2 linked regions of the Homo sapiens genome follow. The protein of the gene in region 1 interacts with the protein of each later gene in a pairwise test. Each region holds a gene or a part of one and is shown on either strand. Other genes may lie near its edges.

Evidence for each region.
Region 2: the proteins of IPO13 (region 1) and ARX interact in a two-hybrid assay, tested with the Homo sapiens proteins (one large-scale study listed by BioGRID and IntAct).

Annotation. Positions count from the first base shown.
Region 1 is NC_000001.11:43,956,893-43,960,705, forward strand, and holds part of IPO13 (importin-13), read left to right. Parts: coding exon 1-84; intron 85-302; coding exon 303-423; intron 424-509; coding exon 510-657; intron 658-1,084; coding exon 1,085-1,266; intron 1,267-1,349; coding exon 1,350-1,376; intron 1,377-1,568; coding exon 1,569-1,703; intron 1,704-1,853; coding exon 1,854-1,997; intron 1,998-3,356; coding exon 3,357-3,437; intron 3,438-3,813. UniProt on the Homo sapiens protein: Functions in nuclear protein import as nuclear transport receptor. Serves as receptor for nuclear localization signals (NLS) in cargo substrates.
Region 2 is NC_000023.11:25,005,853-25,009,665, reverse strand, and holds part of ARX (homeobox protein ARX), read left to right. Parts: intron 1-2,226; coding exon 2,227-2,555; intron 2,556-3,813. UniProt on the Homo sapiens protein: Transcription factor. Binds to specific sequence motif 5'-TAATTA-3' in regulatory elements of target genes, such as histone demethylase KDM5C. Positively modulates transcription of KDM5C.

The sequences.
Region 1 (3,813 bases):
GCTTCTGCACAAGGCCCAGTTCCCTTCTGATGAGGAATATGGATTCTGGTCCTCAGACGAGAAGGAGCAGTTCCGAATTTACAGGTGATGGTAGCAGGCCAACTCCTCTAAAATGGAGTCCAGAAATAATGAAGGCAATGAGGGAAGGGGCCCAAGTCCAGGCTTTCTGAATTTTGGTGCTCCTTTCTGTTTTCTAGGTATTGTTGCAGAGTTGTGGGGGTACTGGGGTAGGCTCCTGGGCTTGGGGGCAGGATCCAGGGTCAGGATCCAGGCAGTATAAAAGGCCTTCATCTGCTTCTCAGGGTGGACATCTCAGACACGCTCATGTATGTCTATGAGATGTTGGGGGCCGAGCTGCTCAGCAACCTCTATGACAAGCTGGGTCGTTTGCTCACCAGCTCAGAGGAGCCCTACTCCTGGCAGGTACCTCCCAAGCCTGATTCCCTCAGCCTTCCCAGACCTGTCACACCCTCCTCCTCATCCAAGCCAGTGGCACCCTCTTTCCCCAGCACACAGAGGCCCTCCTCTACGGCTTCCAATCCATCGCAGAGACCATTGACGTCAACTATTCTGATGTGGTGCCTGGGCTCATTGGCCTCATCCCACGGATCAGCATCAGCAACGTGCAGCTGGCAGACACTGTCATGTTCACCATTGGTGAGACCTGGCACACACCCATGACCATATTCCCAGAGCCACAGCACCCAACCCTGGCCACAGCCAGCATGCTGGATCCTATCCAGAATGGGAGAGCCACATGCCTACACACAATCAGTGTTGTAACAAACTGACTGTCCTGGCAGGTCTAGGGGGTCCATCTGATGGCACACTGAGCTGCAATTCAGTGAGGCTAGTTTACCGTCAGTGAAACAGCAGTACTGGGCCTCTGTTGAGTAACCCCTTCCTGCTTCTCAGCTGTAAGGCTCATGTTTGAGCATGCACATGCATATGTCCTCTGAATGGGGCAGTACTCTGTGCTGGGGCTGCAACTTGACCCTGCCAGGAACTCTGCTTGCCTCAGAGACATGGTACAAAGCCAGCCTGGCCTGCCTCAAAGATCCTCCTGTCTCCCTCCTTCCTCCAGGAGCTCTGTCTGAATGGCTGGCTGACCACCCCGTCATGATCAACAGTGTTCTGCCCTTGGTACTGCATGCCCTAGGCAATCCTGAGCTGTCTGTCTCTTCTGTGTCCACCCTCAAGAAGATCTGCCGAGAGTGCAAGTATGACCTGCCTCCCTATGCTGCCAACATTGTGGCTGTGTCCCAGGTATGCAGGGGCCCTGGATGGTGCTGGGCCTCAGAGCACACTCTGCACTGTGCTGATACTACATTCCTTCTTTCTCCCCTCAGGATGTGCTGATGAAACAGATCCACAAGGTGCGGCTCAAAAGTTTCTAGGGGTCTCCTTGGAGGTCTTGTGGGAATCACTTATCCCTGAAATCCTGTTTTTTGGCCTTCCCCTTCCTCTTATCCCTTATTCTCTGTTTTTCTTCTCCCAAGAGGCTCATTTTCCTTCCTACCCCACAACTAGATGTGGCCAGGACTGACCATCCATGTTCTGCCCCACAGACAAGCCAGTGCATGTGGCTGATGCAGGCGCTGGGCTTCCTGCTGTCAGCTCTTCAAGTGGAGGAGATCCTTAAGAACCTGCACTCGCTTATCTCACCCTATATCCAGCAACTGGAGAAGCTGGCAGAGGAGATAGTGAGTGAGCTCTGGGGGCCAGGGAGCGGTACTGAGATGCTGTGGCTGATGAGGGGTGAGGTTGGAGCTGGCCCTCAGAGCTGAGGCTCAGTGATCTGGGGACCAAACTGGGGCTGGGAGATCTGGAGCTTGGTTTGCTTCTCCCTGCAGCCCAATCCCTCCAACAAGCTGGCCATTGTTCACATCTTGGGGCTTCTCTCCAACCTCTTCACCACACTGGACATCAGTCATCATGAGGATGATCATGAAGGCCCTGAGCTTCGGAAGCTGCCAGTGCCACAGGGACCCAACCCCGTGGGTGACATTTGCCCACGGCAAAGACATTTGTCTTTGCCATCCCCCCAACCCCCACCTGTGGGAATGTCATTGTCACTCTTCAATTCTGTGGGTAATGTTGTCATTGTTCTCCCTGCCCCGTGGGCGTGATATATTTGGTCCTCTGACTCCATGAATGACCTATAATTGCCTCACTCTGTAGGCAGCAATGTCATTATCTCACTCAGCTCTGTGTGTGATGTTGTCCTTGTCCCCAGCCCAATTAGGGTGATGTCATTGAGATTCCTCAGCCCCATGAGGGACATTGACGTTATATCCTTCAACCCTTAAGTGATTTTATGGGCCCCTGTTCAACCCCTAGCTCTGTAGGGCCTTCTACTTCAACATTTACTGTCCCCTGTGGGCACTAAGGATGCTCATTACCTCCTCCGCATGTAATAGTTCTGGCCTTCAAGTTGCTCCCAGTGTAGAGGAAATTCAGGTTGCTCAAATTGTCACAAAGCAGTGTGATAAGTCCTGTGGTAAGCTTGGGCATAGGTTTTGGGGTGACCACTTACAAGCTGCTTGATCTGGGGCAAGCCTCAGCTTCCCATTAAAAACTATGAACATTGAAATGTCTGGCTTACTCAATTCATAGAACTGTGCTGGATAGTAGATGTGGTCTTAAGTGAAGGTAGTTTGCATATTGTAAAGTTCTTTACAAATATAAGGGACTGCTTTAGTCGTTGTTCCCAGAACTCCCTCCCAGATTTCTCCAGGAGAAAAGGAAGCCATAGGCATCCTGGCCTCTCTGCTTAACTCCCCAACCCAGTTTCAGTTAGCCTCTTGGCTTTAGACCACCCCTGGGCCACTGTCATCCCACAGAGCTGCTTCTTTACATGGTAGTCATCATCCTGCCTTTCCTCACCTCCCAGGACCTCAGTCTGCTCTCTGCTCCTCCATAAGCTGGGAGAGCAGCTTAAGCCTGCATCTGTGCATTCCTTGGGGCTCCCTACCTCAAGCCTATTTGGAGGAGATAGCATCTCCACTTCTTCAGAGGCTAGCCCATAGCCTTGGTTTTACAGAGCAGAGATAGGGAGAGATTTTTTTTTAAGTTTACAAAGTTTTTGTAACCTTATGAAGCACTTGTGATATCTCTGCTTTGCAGTTTGAGGCTTCCTTTGAGATGATCCCTAGAATTCAGGAAATACTCCTTTTTCATTCATGAGAGAGTTCAGCAAACCACTTCTTCCCCCAGGGGTCCCATGCCCTGGGTCCTCAATGTGTGTTCTGGGGTAATAGGTCTGAACTGCTCCCCTCCTCCCTGCCACCAAGTCCTCCTCAAGTGGGTCACAGTGATGGATAGCAGAAGCGCCTCACTTCTTCCTGTGCCTTCAGGTGGTGGTGGTGCTGCAGCAGGTCTTCCAGCTTATCCAGAAGGTGCTGAGCAAATGGTTGAATGATGCCCAGGTTGTGGAGGTGAGCCCTGACCCTTGCCCTCCGCTCCCATAGTGACTGCTCAGAGGTGTAGCAGGGTAAGATGTTACTGCCACACTTCAGCTTACAATGGTTTGGAGAAAACAAGGGAGGTGAATCCTGCCCCATAGAGATAAGGAATCTTTTGGGAAGACATTTAGAACTCCCCAATATCATGAGAAGTGCTTAACGTAAGGACTCTAATATTAGGGTCGAGTGACAGTCAGGCATCTGTTTTAGCACCAAAGACCTGCCTTTGGTCCCTTTTCAATTCAGGTTTTTGTTGCTGTTGCTGCTCCCTGAGAGGAAATGTTAGAGATGTAAGTCGCAGGAGTTAAGTTCCACAGTTACATCCTGTGCCCCTCAGTGAAGGGCCTTT
Region 2 (3,813 bases), on another chromosome or scaffold:
TAAAGGTGTTTGCAGCCCCATACCAGAGTGCATTTCCGAACCCAGGCCTCATAACCAAAGAGACGATCAACACTGAGCAGCCCCGATGGCCAACAGAAAACAGATGTCCCCGAGTTAGGAGCTGAGTGAATCACTTTACAGTCAAAATCAAGCGCTGATAAAGCACAATAAATTCCATATGGCTCATTTAATACACAACAGCTTCTTGCATTAGAGGGCTAATGATGAGGCCTGTCCCCTCCTTTCTGTTGACACATTTCTCCATTGTCAAACAGAGATGTGACAGCAACTCCGTATTTTCAGCTCAGGGGAACAAGTCGTGGGAAAGTTAAATAACTTTTAAAAAGAAAGAGAGCGCCCCCTCCCTTTCTCCTCTCCCCCTATTCACTGGAGAAGATGTAATTAAGTGAATATGAATTATTAGAGTCCTTTCGTTTACCTTTGGGGGGCCTCAGAGGTATTAATTCAATAATGAGGAATTGCAGGGGGACATCTTGATAATTGCAGTTGAGCCGGGAGAGACGATCTGTCTGTAAAAAGGTTTCCACGTTCTTTGAGGGCATTCTGAGTCCACTGCCCCCAGTTCCCCTTCTTCTTTCACTGCGATCAAGGAGTGGCGGATATTCTTGTCTAGACAGATTTGGCTACACAAAAGCTGCCCACCCAGTCCGGTCCCATCTACAGTCTTACTTTTTCAAGCCTCTGGGTTTCCACACTGAAGTGTTTCTGAAATTCACAAATAGATTATTTTGAAGGCTGTGGAATGGTGTGAATGGGCCCCCTTTTGGCCGACTTGGAAGTAATTGACCGATTTGGATTCTTGATTTTTCTTGCCCTGGGGGGCTGTCTAGAAGTCAAACCAAGCTTAGATGCTAGTGCTGGTAACAACAAGCCCCAGTGTGTAGATTTGAAAAATATGGATGTGTTTCACATTTTAAAATATATTCCTCTGGGATAATTTACATTATATTTTAATATAACTCTGTATAGCCCTGGAGTTCATTCTTAATTTTCAGACTTGTGTGCAGTTATAAACCCAGCCCTAAAAATATTAATGCCTTCAGGGGAGAAGGAGCATATCTTCCCAGCTGTGGGTGTGATGAGCAGGTCACATAAAAATAATTTCATGCTCCTGGGGTTTATTTTTAGATGATGGTAGCTGCCATGTTTCAGGTAAAGGTCTCCATTAAAACCGCTTTCTATTAGCAATTAGGAAAATACCTCAGGCTGAAAACCTCCCTCCAAGCCTAAAACTATCTTATTTAAATAGCCGATTTAAAACACATCTCCAAAAGGAAATAAAAGACTTGTTAGCTCTGAAGATGTGAAAAGTCTACACCTATCATGCCCTCTGATTTCTATGCGCCCAGGTATTGCTGCCTGCTTCATCCATGTAGTCAGTGCCTTCCTGCATAGAACTGGGTCCTGCAGGGATCCCCTGCCAAGAGCAGGTTGTGTATCCCTGTTTCATTTCATAGAGGATTGACCCCCTGAAATGTATGCTTGCTAATTAACTCGAGCCTTTCTTCCCTCCCTCTCATCCCTCTCTGAACCCCAGAACCCAGCATAGTGCTCTTTGGTGTTCAATAAATGTTTCTGGAAAGAATAAATGAACTATCTTTCCACTTTCCTCTTCCATACAGAGCAAGAATTTTGCCAGCTCTTGCGTAAATCTGAAATAGGTGAAAATAGCTGATATGCAGTAAAACAAGCATGTCCCTCATCTCTTGGTGGCTGCCCATTCCCTAGAGTCACCATTGAATGCATGCTTTCACTTGCCTTATTTTACCCAGTTCTCATAACAGCCTTATGAGTGAAGTTTTATTATCCCCATTTTACAGATTCGAAAACTGAGGTTCAGAGAGGTTTAAGTGACCTGCCTAAAGATCCTAGCAAGCGTCAGCACAGACGTTTAAACTTTGGTTTCCCCAACTCTAAACACACTGAATCACTTTCCTTAAACTTGGAAAACTGGCCCAGGTGGAATGCCGGCAGAAAGGGTTTGCTTGTCCTGTTTCCTGCTGACTTGAAGTTGCGGCTCCTATTCACTGCTCATTTGGCCCCAGACGCGTCCGAAAACAACCTGAGGCCAAAGAGGGGCAGGTGGGCGCGGGCCGCGGTGGAAAGGAAGGGGGCCCCGCAGCGCGCCAAGGGAAGGGACGGGTAGGGGCCCGGTGCGCCCGCCGGGCCGAGCCGCGCCGACCCTGGGCTCTCTCTGCCTTGCAGGTCTGGTTCCAGAACCGTCGGGCCAAGTGGCGCAAGCGGGAGAAGGCAGGCGCGCAGACCCACCCCCCTGGGCTGCCCTTCCCGGGGCCGCTCTCCGCCACCCACCCGCTCAGCCCCTACCTGGACGCCAGCCCCTTCCCTCCGCACCACCCGGCGCTCGACTCCGCTTGGACTGCCGCTGCCGCCGCCGCCGCCGCCGCCTTCCCGAGCCTACCTCCGCCTCCGGGCTCGGCCAGCCTGCCGCCCAGCGGGGCGCCGCTGGGCCTGAGCACTTTCCTCGGAGCGGCAGTGTTCCGACACCCAGCTTTCATCAGCCCGGCATTCGGCAGGTAACGCGCAGCCTCGGAAGTCTGTCTGTCTGTCTGTCTCTCATACACACAGAGGCTGGGGGCAGGGAGGAGGCAGGAGTCAAACAGGGTTACACACATCTTTTTCTTTGACCCAACCTCAGAGACTGTAGCCAAAGAAAATACTCTCTAATTGAGCCTCAAAAAAAAAAATGTGGGTCTTGAAGGTATTGACTTGGAACTTAATGGGAAAGGGGAAGGCAGTGGCAGTAACGACAACCGTGACAACCGAGAATGAAAGCTGTAAAAGTACCATTTGCAGGCTGCAACAAGTCCCACCATAGGTGGTAAGCGAGCAAATATGTACAGGTGTAGGGTACAGAGCAGGGACGACTTTTTAAGTTTTGCAAAAGTTCTTCCTTATGCCCCCCAACCTGGCAGCCTGAGGAACACAGCCCTGATCCCCATGGGAGCCCTGGAGCCACCAGGCCCTCTGGGTGCACAGAATTCTTTCTTCTGCCCCAGACTCCATCTTCCTTGTCACTCAAGTGACCCGCTGCCAACGACACCCCCATATGTGCAAGCCCCGATCTACACGGCAGTACAAGACAACGAAATAAAAGAAACAGTTCATCTTATAACTCCCTTTCTTTAATGAACATCGAATGAGGAAATAAAAAGTCTGTATAATCACACAGACAAAGAAACAAAGGAGGGATGTATTGTGTTAGCGCAGTGAAAATAAAACTGGATGCAGCTTCAATGATCACTCTTTGGGAGAACAAAGAAATAATAGATTCATCCAACTGCGCAGCTGCTTAACAAAAAATCATCTTACAGAAAATTAAGACTCGGAGTAAATTTAGTTTCTTATAACAAACCAATAAAATAAACAGCGAGCGCACTGAAGCAGAGTTAGTGACTCAGTTTACCTAATGGAACCAGGGCATGTTACGCCACCTCCGGGTCACACTTTATCATTTCTTTCTGAGAAAAATCTTAAAGTTCTGTCTCTCCCCTCCCTCCACTTTTTCCCTCTGACAAGTGACTTGTAAACCCAGGCGAACCGTGGCTGGAGGACCGAGTTGCGAGATTCGGAGAGGCTGGAAGAGGGTCTGGGCTGGGGTGGTGCGAGGAGTGAGCAGTGGGCTTGGGAGAAGGAGGCGGCGCTCGGTGAGCCCAGGTGGGCTCATTTCTAACCCTGGAAATCCGGAATTGGCCCCGCGGGCCTGGAGCCAGACCCCTCAGGGAGGCGGTCGGGAAAGCTCGCGGGCGCTCCAAGGCGGTGGGCGTGGGGGTG